Linked DNA regions of Homo sapiens. The protein of the gene in region 3 purifies or fractionates together with the protein of the main gene of each other region. This does not show direct contact. Each region holds a gene or a part of one and is shown on either strand. Other genes may lie near its edges.

Evidence for each region.
Region 1: the proteins of AKAP1 (region 3) and PRKACA purify together in Homo sapiens (affinity purification with mass spectrometry; 8 studies listed by BioGRID and IntAct, with this or other methods). This does not show direct contact.
Region 2: the proteins of AKAP1 (region 3) and PRKAR2B purify together in Homo sapiens (affinity purification with mass spectrometry; 5 studies listed by BioGRID and IntAct, with this or other methods). This does not show direct contact.

Annotation. Positions count from the first base shown.
Region 1 is NC_000019.10:14,091,164-14,093,777, reverse strand, and holds the end of PRKACA (cAMP-dependent protein kinase catalytic subunit alpha), read left to right. Parts: coding exon 1-150; intron 151-540; coding exon 541-666; 3' UTR 667-2,090; downstream 2,091-2,614.
Region 2 is NC_000007.14:107,047,690-107,054,728, reverse strand, and holds part of PRKAR2B (cAMP-dependent protein kinase type II-beta regulatory subunit), read right to left. Parts: intron 1-7,039. UniProt on the Homo sapiens protein: Regulatory subunit of the cAMP-dependent protein kinases involved in cAMP signaling in cells. Type II regulatory chains mediate membrane association by binding to anchoring proteins, including the MAP2 kinase.
Region 3 is NC_000017.11:57,102,234-57,109,272, reverse strand, and holds part of AKAP1 (A-kinase anchor protein 1, mitochondrial precursor), read right to left. Parts: intron 3,833-7,039; 5' UTR 3,809-3,832; coding exon 2,095-3,808; intron 1-2,094.

The DNA of each region.
Region 1 (2,614 bases), on a different chromosome or scaffold from region 3:
CACTTCAGCTCTGACTTGAAGGACCTGCTGCGGAACCTCCTGCAGGTAGATCTCACCAAGCGCTTTGGGAACCTCAAGAATGGGGTCAACGATATCAAGAACCACAAGTGGTTTGCCACAACTGACTGGATTGCCATCTACCAGAGGAAGGTGGGCCTCCCCTCCTTAAGCCTGCTGAGGGTTTGGGAGCAGGCCAAGAGTCAGGGAGGACAGCCAATAGAGAAATAGAGAAGAGAACACAGGTTCAGGAGCAACCTAGAGTAGAGAGCTTAGAGCAGTGGGGTCTAGAAATGGGATTCTGGGGTCATTTGGCCATTCCATGACCTTGTGCAACAGATGCCTCTCTCTGGGAAGTAATTTCCCCTTTGATGAGTTGCTACATTAAGAGTTTCGGGCTGTTAAGAGGAATCCATAACCTAATGGTAAGCACAGGCCTGAGTCAGAGTAAATATCTCTTGAATGTTAGGCCATTCGCATTTATTGTTGTAATAATGATTATGTTGAATGCTGAGGTCTGGGTGATTCTTGATCCCTCTCCAGGTGGAAGCTCCCTTCATACCAAAGTTTAAAGGCCCTGGGGATACGAGTAACTTTGACGACTATGAGGAAGAAGAAATCCGGGTCTCCATCAATGAGAAGTGTGGCAAGGAGTTTTCTGAGTTTTAGGGGCATGCCTGTGCCCCCATGGGTTTTCTTTTTTCTTTTTTCTTTTTTTTGGTCGGGGGGGTGGGAGGGTTGGATTGAACAGCCAGAGGGCCCCAGAGTTCCTTGCATCTAATTTCACCCCCACCCCACCCTCCAGGGTTAGGGGGAGCAGGAAGCCCAGATAATCAGAGGGACAGAAACACCAGCTGCTCCCCCTCATCCCCTTCACCCTCCTGCCCCCTCTCCCACTTTTCCCTTCCTCTTTCCCCACAGCCCCCCAGCCCCTCAGCCCTCCCAGCCCACTTCTGCCTGTTTTAAACGAGTTTCTCAACTCCAGTCAGACCAGGTCTTGCTGGTGTATCCAGGGACAGGGTATGGAAAGAGGGGCTCACGCTTAACTCCAGCCCCCACCCACACCCCCATCCCACCCAACCACAGGCCCCACTTGCTAAGGGCAAATGAACGAAGCGCCAACCTTCCTTTCGGAGTAATCCTGCCTGGGAAGGAGAGATTTTTAGTGACATGTTCAGTGGGTTGCTTGCTAGAATTTTTTTAAAAAAACAACAATTTAAAATCTTATTTAAGTTCCACCAGTGCCTCCCTCCCTCCTTCCTCTACTCCCACCCCTCCCATGTCCCCCCATTCCTCAAATCCATTTTAAAGAGAAGCAGACTGACTTTGGAAAGGGAGGCGCTGGGGTTTGAACCTCCCCGCTGCTAATCTCCCCTGGGCCCCTCCCCGGGGAATCCTCTCTGCCAATCCTGCGAGGGTCTAGGCCCCTTTAGGAAGCCTCCGCTCTCTTTTTCCCCAACAGACCTGTCTTCACCCTTGGGCTTTGAAAGCCAGACAAAGCAGCTGCCCCTCTCCCTGCCAAAGAGGAGTCATCCCCCAAAAAGACAGAGGGGGAGCCCCAAGCCCAAGTCTTTCCTCCCAGCAGCGTTTCCCCCCAACTCCTTAATTTTATTCTCCGCTAGATTTTAACGTCCAGCCTTCCCTCAGCTGAGTGGGGAGGGCATCCCTGCAAAAGGGAACAGAAGAGGCCAAGTCCCCCCAAGCCACGGCCCGGGGTTCAAGGCTAGAGCTGCTGGGGAGGGGCTGCCTGTTTTACTCACCCACCAGCTTCCGCCTCCCCCATCCTGGGCGCCCCTCCTCCAGCTTAGCTGTCAGCTGTCCATCACCTCTCCCCCACTTTCTCATTTGTGCTTTTTTCTCTCGTAATAGAAAAGTGGGGAGCCGCTGGGGAGCCACCCCATTCATCCCCGTATTTCCCCCTCTCATAACTTCTCCCCATCCCAGGAGGAGTTCTCAGGCCTGGGGTGGGGCCCCGGGTGGGTGCGGGGGCGATTCAACCTGTGTGCTGCGAAGGACGAGACTTCCTCTTGAACAGTGTGCTGTTGTAAACATATTTGAAAACTATTACCAATAAAGTTTTGTTTAAAAAAAAAGTGTCGCTGGTGTTCTCGACTTCGATCACCCACCCACACACCCCCAGGGGGTTGGAAAGGGAATTTCGGACCCCAGCGTGCAGGCCGATCAGGTCCTGGCTTGAAGTCCTTGTAACCAGGGTTTAGCTGAAATTCCGGCACTCCTTCGGCCCCGCAGGAGAAACGAGCGTCAAACTGCCCTTTGACCCCAGATTCGGGGTCCCCAAATCTGCGGCGCGCCCCCTCGGCGTCCAGCCCGGGACCGAGAGGGCGCTCTAGGGAGGCGCTGGGGCTGGCGCGCCAGGAGGCCGAGCGGCGGCGGGGGCGGCCCTGGCAGGGGGAGTAGAAGGGGGAGAGGGTGCGCGCCCCCCTTCCCGCATCCTCAGCGCCGGGCCAGGCGCGCCTGAGGGACGCGGGGGCGGCGGCAGCAGGAGGGTCCCCGCAGCACCCTGCGAGCGCGGCAGCCCCGGCCCGCGGGCGGCGAGTTCCCGGTAAGTGCGGTCCCGAGAGCGGAGCGCGCTGGAGAGGCGTGGAGAGGGGGGCTG
Region 2 (7,039 bases), on a different chromosome or scaffold from region 3:
AAAACATTTGCACACCTACTGTGAGCAAAGCACAACACATACAGGAAAGACTTAGAAAGAGAGGGTATATTCCTGCACATTCTTGCCTACCTAGACTGAGGACCCTTGACATCTGCAAAGTTGACTGATGGAGGCCATATTCATCCTACCATATTGATAGTATTAACGTCAAGGAGGGAAACTTGCAAAAATATTTGGTAGGGTAAAATATAAACTAAACCTTTGGGAAAAGAGTGAGATTTAGCAGAAAGACAGGGAGAGGGGAGTGAGAATTCAGGACCAAGAGAATGACTTAAGACAAGAATATTTGGCTATATCAATTTAGAATCATGTCATGTGCCGCTATATACCGTGGTTTTTGTTTGTTTTGTTGTTTTGTTTTGTTTTGAGATGGAGTCTCACTCTGTCAAGCAGTGCTGCGATCTCAGCTCACTGCAAGCTCTGCCTCTCGGGTTCACGCCATTCTCCTGCCTCAGCCTCCCGAGTAGCTGGGACTACAGGCAACTGCCACCACGCCAGGCTAATTTTTTTGTGTGTATTTTTAGTAGAGACGGGGTTTCACCAAGTTAGTCAGGATGGTCTCGATTTCCTGACCTCATGATTCGCCCGCCTCGGCCTCCCAAAGTGCTGGGATTACAGGCTGTGAGCCACCACACACGGCCTACTGTGTTTTATTTACTACTTAATGCATATTTACAAAAGAATTGCCTTTCTTTCATGTATTTTTACACTTATTTAATAGGTAATCCAAGCACATGCTAAACATTTTTCAAAAGTTACAAGAAAGCAAATAGTGAACGATCTCTCTCCTAACAAAATAACCTGAAATACTCTATGAAATTGCATTTCTTTTCAACTATTCTAAACTTTAGACTTTCTTCTAATTCTGACTGGTATTTCCATAATTTACTGATTCCTAACCAGAAAACTATAATACGATTCTCTTTGTCCCATCCACAAATGTTGCACCAAAAACATTACCACTATACAATTGGAATTCAAGGTATATACAGGAAAACAGGTTTTAAAAGAAAAAGCCTGGATTTTCCCCTTCAGGTAACGTAGTTTTACTTCCTTTTTATAAGATAGAATTTTCCTCTGTATTCTGCCAACTTCTGTTGAGTCAATTAACTTACCGAGTGACTGTCTTTTAAAAAAGACACACACACACACACACACACACACACACACACACACACACACTCTTTATAATCTAGAAGCTTGAATCAGGGAACCAAAATTGATCATGGCTACTTTATATATTACTAGAGTATCAATTTAAGTGGTATTGTTTACAGCTGTAGTCTCCAAAACGGGGTTCATGTATGCCAAAACAGTGTATAAGGCTATATGTTGGGATGTAGGAGAAAATTACAACTTGCTTAGAATTGCTTTTTACTTTCTCCTTTCAAAATTTATATTGTAGGAAGCTTTATCATACATATAAGTCAATATATTGTCACATGTATAAAATTTATCAACATATATTGGGGTGTACACTCAAATATATTTTGCTAATAAAGGTATATAATAAAATAAATTTAGAGAATTAAGCAGCTCAGTACATGAGGTGATTATTTCTAAAATAAATAAATGTAGGCTGGGTGTGGTGGCTCTTGCCTATAATCCCAGTATTTTGGGAGGCTGAGGCAGGTGGGATCACTTGAGGCCAGGAGTTCCAGACCAGCCTTGCCAACATGGAAAAACCTTGTCTCTACCAAAAATACAAAAATTAGGCAGACATGGTGGCACACACCTGTAATCCCAGCTACTCAGGAAGCTGAGGCAGGAGAATCACTTGAACCCAGAGGCAGAGGCTGCAGTGAGCCAAGATGGCACCACTGCACTCCAGCCTGGGCAACAGAGCAAGACTCTGTCAAAAACAAAATAAAATAAAATAAACAAATGTACTGAGTTTCTAAGGTACATGAAATGCTAATTTGGGTTGAATAGACAGAGAATGCAAATTGTAAAAGGGAGAGATCAATGCAGGGCTAGCCTGCAAACTTTTAGAGGGAAAAGTAGGTAGCTTATTTTTTGATATGTGCTTATTTTCAACCACGTTACTGCTAAAAGAATTACTGAAATGAAGTGTATAAACCGTGGTTGAAGAGGAAGACCCTGAAGTCAGATTACCAGGTTCAAACCTTGATTCCACCAATTACTCTGGGGAAGACTAAATCACATATGTGTAAAGCATCTGTTCAGATGACAATGTGTAAAGCACTGTTCCACATCTGATACATCAGTAGTCAAAAATGTTAATAATAACTAGTATTAAATAAAAAGGACACCATTTATTTATTTTTTTGAGACAGAGTATACCTCTGTTGCCCAAGCTGGAGTGCAGTGGCGCAATCTCGGCTCACTGCAACCTCCGTCTCCAGGGTTCAAGCGATTCTCCTGCTTCAGCCTCCCAAGCAGCTGGGATTAAGGCGCCCGCCACCACGCCCAGCTAATTTTTGTATTTTTAGTAGAGATGGGGTTTCACCATGTTGGCCAGGCTGGTGTCCTATTCCTGACCTCAGGTGATCCGCCCGCATCGGCCTCCCAGAGTGCTGGGAATTATAGACATGAGCCACCGTGCCCGGCCTAAAAGGACACCATTTAAAAGACATTAGTTTTCTATAATAATGAGAACGAAACAGCCGAATCATGTTTTAATTCAACATGACCTTTGAAAAAGATGCTCTTTGGGTGTAACTGAAATATATTAGAACAAATGGAACAAACGGCTTTTTTCCTTCTCTTTTTACCCCCCAAATTCCCCTCAACATCACTCCCATGGACTATTTTGTCTTGGAACAGCTAATGTAAATTAAACAATGTCATCCTTAGTCAAACAGATACAGGAATAACTGTATACAGTATATCTTCTTGGCTTCACTTTTATGTGGAACATGTGTTTACATTTTGACCTTTTGTCTTTTTTTTAATTAAGAAACATTTTTAAACAGCAGCAACTGGAAAGACTTTTTTTTTTAGTTTCCAAACATATTAAGCTACACATGGCAGAGCCTATTGCTGAAACATTTATAAATGTTACACCAACTGTTTATAGTTCTGATTTTCTTATTTGATTGTTTTGTTGTCATGTAAGCCATGACCTGAAAATTTTAGCTCAAATTCTTTCCATAAAATTACATAATGAAACCGTCTGAGTCATTTTGAATTTGTGAAGCACAAAATTCGCTCTCATAAAATAATGATAAGCATCATAGTGAGGTTTTTAGAGTAGGATTTTGTGACTGTCCCAACCACAACTAGATGATATAGATAAGACAGGAAGGACAAGAACAGGATCAAGAACACAGTAACAATTCATTCAATTCAGAAAAATCACTGCATTCTTGTTTCTTTTCCATTGTCTCTTCTTAAGCAAGTGATAGGAAAATATAGTCTAATATTAGATTTCACTTCATTGAAAAAGAATCAAAGAACAAAAAAACCTGGAAATTCTGAAGACAAAAGTACTTTTCTTTAGCCCATCCTTTTAAACCTTATCAATCAACTTGATGGAAGACAGAAAAAATTCATATGATGTAAGTTAATATAAATAGCGCACAAAATGTTGGCAACAGTTGTATGAACAAACTCAAATTTATAAGGCCAAAACCTACCAAATTTGGATAAGGAACTTCTCTGTCTCTCACCTGCCCCATCTATTAACAAAATTGATCATACATACTATCTATGAGGCCATCTCTGACAAAAGGATGGTGTCTTAAGTCTAGGCAGGGAGCAGTGGCTCACGCCTCTAATTCCAACACTTTCGGAAGCTGAGGCAAAAGGACTGCTTGAAGCCAGGAGTTCAAGACCAGCCTGGGCAAGAAAGGAAGACCCATCTCTACCAAAAAACAAACAAAAACAGAAAAAAATGAAGTCTAAAGAGAGTAAATGTAAGACGAATCATTTCTTTTTTCTTAAAATAAGAACTATCCTACCTTCCAAGTTTCACACATTGTTTCTAATAGGCCATCCCAGATCTCAGCACTTTCTGTGATTCTCCACACTTCTAAAGTAGACCCTGCAGTTAGTCACTTCAGTCTTCTTCACTGAATCTCTCACCTTAAAATATTCCATCATTCCCCAACCTCCACTGTAGGACTTTATTACTACTACTACTGACAAACGATTTTCTTAATGGGTCAAAAATAAACCCCAAATTGATGGATTCATAGGTCCCCTGTTTGTATTTGCACAACTGAAAAAGAAACACAATTGTTTTTCAACATAGCTGTTAACAAAATCTTGACGGCTGGAAATTTACTGGAATCCATGGAATGAGATTTGCAACAATAAAATAACCATTCAATATTCACTCCTGTTCTACCCAGACACAGCACATCAATTTATGTGCATCCACAAAAAAAAAAAAAAAAAAAAAAAAAAAAAGCTGGTAACTGTCTTATCTAAAATAATAGCTAAATGGTTTGGTTTTTGATAGAAAAATTAAAGTACTAATGCTTCAATTTCTGTTTAGGTGTTTCCATTGTATGTCTTCAAAGTGTAAGTTACTCAAGCAAGCCTTCACAACTGGTTTTACTTCTCTCTTGCTCTCTCCCTCCCCCTTTCCCTTCTGACTTCATTATCTTTCTCCCTCTACCACCCTTCTTCCAAAGCCCAAAGTAATAGATGGTAAGAGAAGGGGTTTTTTGGTTTCCCAATTTCAACCCCTAAAGCAATCCACCTACTATTACTAGTAAAATGAATAATGTTCTTAACTTCTGCTTTGAAAATCACAATCACTATCTCTAACTCAAAATAATTTTTATTATCTTTTCTGACACTATTGTTTTATGCTCATAACTAAAATAATGGCTTCAATATTTTAGCCATTGTCATGAATGATTTAATCCATTTCAGGAGGATTTAAAACCACCATGTAAATCTCTAATAGCCAAAAACTATAAAGTCTCATTAATTACAAAATCCTGGAGCTCTTAGCTACAAATTATGAGCTGAAAAGATATGGATTTTATTACTGTATAACATTAAATCCTAAGTAAAACTGCCACATAAGCTCATTCCCTGCTTCACCTCGCCAAGAAGTGCAATACTGGATTCATTTCCATAAAACACAATGAAATTGCTATTCTGCAAAAAAAAAAGTATATAACTCTGTAAGATTTTATATCAATGATATAAACTTTACAATATTTTGCTTGACCTTAAGGATGTTTTGTAAATTCTCCAAATTCCCTTTGAACTGTAAAAACCAAAAGGTAGGTAAGATTCCAACAAGACTGGACATGGGACAGAGTTAAGAGGATTAAGCCACAGTTATTACATGGTAAATTTCTATTTATTACTTTTGATATGCTTGTCTTATGGGGTATGAGTCTATATTTTTGGTATGTGTATCTACTTTGAACTCTAGATCTTTTTCTTCTATAACTCAGAAAATCAGCTCTTTATTTTCTATCACGGTAGTTATTTTTTCTCCCAGGTTGACTGCTCTGCATGTGCCCATGTGTAGTTAATTTTGTTTCTGACCACTTGTCCATTTATCAGAGTAATCTGAATGGTATTTACTTCATTTTTTGTTTCAGCAATTCCACTGAAGAAATTATGGGGCAACACAAGATCTCTTGATGATGCCTATATAAAATCATGAATTACCACAGATTTTACTCCAAACTAGTACTGATGCAATGCTATAGCCTACCGTAAACCTTCTAAGAAATTCAAGGCCTAGGGATGCTACCCTTTCAGACATGACATGTCAAACTGTATTTGCTTTCTCTAGGACGGGGAAGAGGGAGACAGAGTAGATGCCAAGAGGTTTCCATTATGGCTTCTTTCTGGCCTTTGAGAGTTTCCCTAGAAAGGGTCACCATAAGCCACTATCATTCTAACATCTAAAGCTTGCTCTTTCGACCAGAATTGATAGCAAATGGAAAGTAACAATTAGAATTTATAAGACTGGAAGAGAATAGGAGAGGGAAAAGAAAGCTATTAGAAGAGGAAGGGATCCTTTGGAAAGGTAGGAAAGAAGATGACCTTCACCCATCTGACTGTTTGCTCTAGCGCCACCTACAGCCACACCACCTGACCCTCAAAAATCACCGACCCCTGGCCAGACAACATTTTTTCCAGCTAACTGCAGGTGCCTGGCTTATTTGATTAAACCACCACATTATAAGGTCAAGGTCACATGCTTGATCCCTACGTTTGTCCTACGTTTGTCAATGGGCACAAGTTGCATGGTCAAAAACTTGCCTTTTAACTCCAACCTCTCATAAATACCATCACTTACGTTAAAGACATTCACAAGAGAGGATATGAACCAACAATGCAAATCCATCAGCATTACTAAAAGAAAAAAAAACAGGAAAACCTGACTTGTGAGTCAGCCCACAGAACAAATTCCATTTAAGAACTCCCTGATCATCCTGGGCTTCAAGGTTAGATACATAAGAGTAAGAAATCAGGCTTCCCTACTTACTCGTTTTATGTGTGACCTTGGACAAGTTAATTTTTCAGAGCTTTAACAATAAAACACATTAAGGGTCCCAAATAGAGCTTGACATATAAGGGATACTCAGGTTATGCTAGCCCCAGCCCCATCTGGAGATAGAATCGGGCAGTCAAGAGCACAGGGATGAAGCCAGGTCCACCTGTATCCCAATCTTGATTTTGCAGCTCACGTGAAACACTGGGCAAGTGATGGCCTTATCGTTCTCATAAAGCTGAGACAAAAAAATTAAAGCATTTAGACAGCACACAGCAATTGTCAACTAACGGCAATTATGTTTTAAATGTTAAGAAGAATATAGTATTATCACTATCTGTTAATGTTTTCCAAAGTACAGTCATGGAACTATTGATATCAGAATGACCTGGGTGGGATGTCTACTGAGGGGGAAGAAAAGGATATCATGTCCCATCTCAACCTATTTAAAAAAGCTCTCCAAAAATGGTACAGGGTAATGGTCATTTCTGAATCAAACTTCCTTGAGATATCTATGAAAATTTCAGAATTACTGACCCAGCAGGTCTTGTGCTGTGTCATAGTAAATTAAGACTTGTTTTCCAA
Region 3 (7,039 bases):
AGAGCGTGCCAAAGGGACCGTCACAAAAAAGCGGGTCCAGATCAGCTCAAGAGAAGTGGCCCTGGCTTAAATATGGATGACTCAATCACCAGAAATAGATCACTCCTGAGAGTCTACCAATTAGGTTACCTTCCACATGGTTTCTCCAAACCCTGAGTATAATCCTTTGCCAAGTAACCCATACACTGGATGCAGAGAACTAAGGCCCAAGAGATCCTGCTCCCAGCTAAGGAAGAATCACCTTCAAAATGACTTCCCCCCTTAACACTAGGCGCTTCGAACAGGATTCATGCAGGGAAAAGTACCCCTTCTGGGGGAAGACTGCTTGGCTAGCCTGCGGGAAGCATAACAGGCTGACAGGGGCTGGGCGAGGGGGCGGGGAGCTCTGCTCACTCACAGTATCCAGCCTCTGCCCCACAGAATGGGACTGGCTAACACCTGCCATCCCGATGGCTCCCAGCAGTGGCTCAGAACCACACCCGGACTCTAGCAGGCTGCACTCAAAGGCCAGCTTCCAGCTCCCTCAGTGGGGTGGTCCCTGGTCCCCTTCTCAGCTTCAACTTCCTCACAAACAAAGCAGGGCTGACATGAAGGTACATGCGAGGCACTAACCTCGTGCTTGGCACCCACCGCATGCTCGTGGACAGTATTACCTCATTTCCACGTGCCATCCCTAAACCTCCCTGCCCATCACCACGGCTTAGGTTCAAGCCTAAACTCAGAAGACTTCAACAGGTCTGAGTAGCTACTACTATCCATCTAGAGTTGGCAGACAAGGCTGCGGGGCTTGTTAATTCAGCTGAGGGGCAGTAAGCAAAGGGAAACTCCTTTATTCTTAAAAAATAAATAAAATAAAAATCACCCATTTTCAGATGCAGTATTTTAAGAAACATTTAAACATCCCGAGATTAGGATGCATCATATAGTATCTTGCCTTCTATAATCATGACTGGCAGCACTTTTTTCTTTCCAAGGTACATAAAAACAGTAGTGTCTTAACAGCATCTTGGAGGTGACAAAATGTAGCGTGTGGTACAAACTAGATGCTGCTGAAAGTGGTAAAATTCCCAATAAAGATTCCCAACCTACCCGGAGCTGAAATGGGAGGGAATGGCTCCAGGACAAACAAGTCAGAGAGCCACTCGGGATATTCGTGGCCTCTCTCCATGAGATAAATGAAAACACCCCAGGGTGCCTGCAGAAGCAGGGTCAGGAGCTGCTGACCTGTAAGTTAGCGGTCTGAACTGTCTACGCTGGGGTCAGCACTCGAAAAACCCAGGACACCTCGTTATCAAAGTGCCCCGCTTTCCCGGGGGTGGAGCTGCAACTGCACAGAAAGAAAATGGCTGAGGCTTTCTGCAAAGGTGACAGCGACAACTCAGGAAGCTCAAGCCTCCCACAAGTATTCAAAGCTGTGGCCGTTCTTTGGGCACTTACCCTGTAAGAGCTTCTGGAGAAGGAAAGCAGGTGAAGACATGGGAACAAGCACATGATTAAAAGGAAATAAAAACCATTCAAAACACTCACACCCATACCTGGCACTCAAGGGAAGTAAAGCTAAGGAGGCCTCTCCATTAAAACACACACACACACGCACACACAAAGAGGTTAGTGTTTAAAAAAGAAAAAAAAATGGGCTGGGCATAGTGACTCACACCTATAAACCCAGCACTCTGGGAGGCCGAGGGCGGAAGGATCACTTGAGCCCAGGAGTGCGAGACCAGCCTGGGCAACAAAGGAAGACTCCATCTGCACCAAAATAATAATAATTTTTTTAAACAAAGAAAAAGAGGCACACTAATGTTAATCAGCGAGCCCAACTTGGCGCTAGTTCCTTGGGAAGGGCTCACTGGGGAAGGTCACCGGTTGAGGAACCAAGTTACAGCTCCCATGACTTGGGGTTTCAGGGCAATCTAACTCCTCAGTTACCCACCAGCTCTACGCCGTGTCCAGACCTCTGCAGGTTGCGATAAAGAGCTGAAGAGCACTATGACTTTGCTGCACAAGTAGCAGAAGGGAGAGGCAGACTGGCAGCCTTTCTCCAAGAAATACTGGGAGCGCCCCATCCTCTAAACGAACCCGAGACCCTCCTACCTCCTGAATGATCTGCTTCCGCATCCATGGTCCATCCATCCTCAGCCCCCAAGTCTGACAACTCCCCCTTCAGCACCCCATTGCTGAAGGGCACAGTACTTTCTGGCAGTGGCGGGGTGATGGCCTTGTCCCTGGGGCTCGAGCTGGTCTCTGTGCAAGAGTCTTCAAGCCCTGAAGTGCTGAAAGAATCTGAGCAGTGTCCTGGAGAAGCCACCAAAGGGACACTTTGGCTGCTGTCTGACATGCAGGTGACACAGGTGGCATCTTCCACCAGGATGCCTGCCCGGTCCGGCAACTCTTCACTGGGGGTGGTCAGTGCCAGGCAGGAGGCCAGGGAGATGTGGTGTGCAGAGATATTTGGCTTACTGTCCTTGGTGGGGCTGGACAGAAGGCTCTTCAGGCAGCTCACGTAGGTCTTTGGTGGTGGTGAGCCCTCTGCTGGTAGGCCTGGCAAGGGGAGGCCAGCATCCGGCGGGGCAACAGCTGCCTCTGCTGTGGCAGGCTCCGCAGTGTCTGGGCCCAAGACAGTTTTCTGGTGAACTGGGACACAGCTCTCTTCCTTCTGCCCTTGGAGCTGACTGGCCTGACACACACGACCTGCAACCTTGCCAACCGTGGTGGCCAGCACCTGTTCGGTTGCTTCTGAGATCACTTGGGAGATTATCTGGAAGGCAGCCCGCTTAATCTCCTCATTTCTATCCAAGCCCTCCTCATTTCTATCCAAGCTCTCCTCATTTCTATCCAAGCCCTCCTCATTTCTATCCAAGCCCTCCTCATTTCTATCCAAGCTCTCCTCATTGCCCAGTTCTCCCTCGACACCTCTATCCTGGGCTTTGGCGTCTGCGACTGGGGGTGCTGGCGCCGCATCGTCCTTTGCCAGCTCTGTGTGAGCCGACTCGATGAACCTACTTGGCAACTTCTCTGCTACATACTCTTCCTCCTGCACTGGCCCCACCACCTGGGATGAGCTGCTCTTCCCCTTATCTTCTTCCCCCTCTAAAGAGGCCAGGCTGGGGCCCTTGCTGTTCTCCAATTCCAAGACATGCTCCCGAGACAACAGAGCTTCTTCAAGCACCTTTTCCCCCAACACGGCATCACCAGTCCCTTCGGCCCCACCTGTCTCTCTTGCCCTCTCCCCAGAGCTACGCTTCTCTGCGGGGACTACGGGGTAGCCTGGCTGGACCTTCCTTGGCACCCTGCTGAAGGGGGAATCTTGCTTACACACCTCAGCTGATTTGCTGGAGAATAGTACACCCTTTGGGGATGAAAGGGGGCACTCTAGAGGAATCGATTTGGCTTCACCACCTGTCAGGGCTAGCTCCAGCTTTGTACTGTCATCTCTGCGTGTTCCTGGTCGCAATCTCATGTCTGTGGTGTTAGGAAGAATGCCCGAGGACTCTGATCTTCGGCAAGGTGGGTGTGTCTGGAGCAATGCTGGGGGCTCTGCAGGCAGCTTGCTCACGGTGGACAGTTCCTTTTCTGGAGGCTCTGTGACACTGGGGGGTGTGGACACTACTTTGGGACAGACGTCTTCCACGGGGAGAGGTTCCTTGATGGCAGGGTCAGCCCTCAGCTGCACAGCACCAGCCTCCACCTGCTGCTCATCATGGCTGCTGACATGGCCTTTTTTACGAGAGAAAAACCACCACCAGCCGAGGAGCGCCAGCATCCCAGGCAATGCCAAGGGGAAGAGCGAACGGAACTGGATTGCCATCCTGGAGGCTTGAAGTAATTACACCTGGGGAGAGCAGGAGAGCGGGGAGGAGGGATGTTACAGAGCCAGGTAGGAGGATACTGGCAACCGCACATGCAAGACAGTCAACAGGGTAGAGCTGGAGCCATCTCCTCCGCCTTCCCTGCCCTCCAAGAGGAGCACACCTCTCAGCTCGTACCAGTCCACCCTCTGTGTGATCCACTGGGGGTCAGTGGCCAGGAAGAGGCATCTTCCCCTCCATGCTCCCCAACTCACGCACCCTCTTGAAACAAACCGAGCATTCTATTCTTTAACCCAAATCCCTCCCTTCATCACTTCATGATGCCAAATTCTCTCTATGTTCCCCAAAAAGGGGCTAGCTCTGCTCAGTGTGGCTCAGTTCTCTAAACTCACAGAACATTTTTTTCTATCAAGTGGCATCAGAGCATTTCAAACCCCCATGGAATCCACATGTGCATGGTTCCCTCACATCTACCCATAAAATCATGAGTCAATGAAATGGAACTTTGTTACTCAGCAATTAGAGACAGTGAGAATGAAGGAGGAATAAAATTCCCAATGGCTAAGGAGATGCTCCAGGGTGAGGGACCAACACAGCAAACTGCAGCATGAAGGTCCAGGTCAGACTTGGAAGATTCAAATACAGGCGCTCCCTGATCTTCCAAGGCTCAACTGAGAATTTTTCAACTTTACAATGGTGGGAAACAATACCCATTCAGTGGAAACTATACTTCCAATTTTGGATTCTGATCTTTCCCTGGACTACCAATAGGTGATGCGCTACTCTCTCGCAATGCTAGCTCCCAGTCATCCACTCTATCACAAGGGTGAACAACGGGCACTCCAGAGTGGATCGTGTTGCTAGGTGATTTTGCCCCACTGTAGACGACTGTGAGTCTTCTCAGCTCATGTAAAGTAGCCTAGGCTAAACTATGGTGTTCAGTAGGTTAGGTGCATTAGATGTATTTATTTTCGATTTATGCTATTTTCAGCTTACAATGGGTCTACCAGGATGTAACTCCATTGTAAGCTGAGGAGCATCTGTACCATCGTGGGGTCAGTGAGGGTGTCCTAGGGCCCCACTGCGTAGTCTGGACTTTATCCTGCAGACAACAGAGAACCAGCATAGGTCTGCAAGGCACACACATCAAATTGTTTCTAGAAGGCAATTCTGGGAACAGGATGAAAAGTGAATCGAGGCTGGGCGCAGTGGCTCATGCCTGAAGCCTGAAATCCCAGCACTTTGGGAAGCAGAGCTCGGCAGATCACCTAAGGTCAGAAGTTTGAGACTAGCCTGGGCAACACGGTGAAACCCTGTCTCTACTAAAAATACAAAAATTAGCTGGGCATGGTGGCAGGCGCCTGTAATCCCAGCTACTCAGGAGGCTGAGGCAGGAGAATTGCTTGAATCCAGGGGGGTGGAGGTTGCAGTGAGCCGAGATCAAGACTCCATCTCAAAAAAGAAAAGTGAAGTATATCGAGCAGAAGGAACCTAGAAACCTAAGTCAGTTAGGTCTAAGCAAGGAGGAATAGTAAGGGCCTAGAAGAAGGCAACAGACATGTAAAGGGGATAGAAAACTCAATTTTTCCTCATCTGTAAGATGGGGACACATCTCTTAATGGATGGTTGGTATAAGGATTAGCTGAGATATAGAAAGTTCTTTGCAAAGCAGTTAACACTCACTAAAGGTATATGATGGGCTTATTCTAGAACACTTACATTCAATGCTTCCTATGCCAGCAAACTTTAAATCTCTCTGCCAAAGTAATGTCTTTTTAAAACCAAAAATCCTTCAACTGACAAGCTGAATTACACCTTATTTGGGTTTGTTTTCTTTTAGAGATAACAAATGCACATGTTTTAACAACTCATATTGGTTTGACTTATATTGTTTTCTGGCAGAACCAGAACATCAGTACTTTTAAAAGTTCCCTGAGAGGTTCTACTTTCCAGCCAAGGCTGGGAACCACTACTCTAGGACTCTGCTTCTGAAAGTGCGATCCATGTACCAGAAGTCCTGAATATTGCCTAGGACCTTGCTAGAAATGCAGTATCCCAGTCTCACCTCAGACTTGCATTTTAACAAGATCCCTAGGGGATTGAGAAGGACCTTACAGTTTGTGAAGGAATGCTAAGAGGTGTGTTCTGCCCCTGAAGTGATGAAGTGGGGGCAGTGGTAGTGAGAAGGTCACCTCCATTTGAAAGTCCCTATATCTTTAAAGATAAACTTTCTTGCTGATATTTGAAGCAGCAGCAATGATAGCATTTGAAGCACAATGCAGGGCTAGGCAGTGGCCAGGGCTAAGGCTTTACATCAATTCCTCAGGGAAGAAATTTAGTGCTACCGTTTTGCTTCACATTCAAACACAGAACCTTGCTAGATTGTTTTCCTTTTATCTCGCTGTCGTCCAGGCTGGAGTGCAGTGGTGTGATCTCGGCTCATTACAACCTCTGCCTCCAGGTTCATGCAGTTCTCCTGTCTCAGCCTCCAGAGTAGCTGGGTCTACAGGCGCCCACCACCACACTTGGCTAATTTTTGTATTTTTGGTAGAGACGGGGTTTCGCCATGTTGGCTAGACTGGAACTCGAGACCTCAGGTGATCCGCCAGCCGGCCTCCCAAAGTGCTGGGATGACAGGCCACGGTGCCCAGCCAAATGAATTACTATCTTGAAGGTTAAAATAGCTCAAGGAGGCTGGGTGCGGTGGCTCACACCTATAATCCTAGCACTTTCAGAGGCTGAGGCGGGTGGATCACGAGGTCAGGAGATTGAGACCATCCTGGTTAACATGTTAAACCCTGTTTCTACTAAAAATACAAAAAAAAAAGAGAGAGAGCCGGGAGTTGTGGCGGGAGCCTGTACTCCCAGCTACTCGGGAGGCTGAGCGGGAGAATCACTTGAACCCGGGAGGCAGAGGTTGCAGTGAGCCAAGATAGTGCCACTGCACTCCAGTCTGGGTGACAGAGCGAGACTCAAAAAAAAAAAAAAGCTCAAGGCATACAGCCAAGGGATGGGTACCTAAATTCTCTCCCACATTAAATCTGGAACCCATTATTCTAGAACTGTGGGGAAGAGGCGCTATATGAGCCAAGAAAAGGGGAAGTCTGTACTACCTTTCCGGAGAGCCTTATGATAGCTCTTAAAAGCTCATAACCACATCCTACAACTCTGAAATCCCACACTTGGCATCTTTAAATTAAAAAAACAAAAACAAAACCACAACAAAGAAA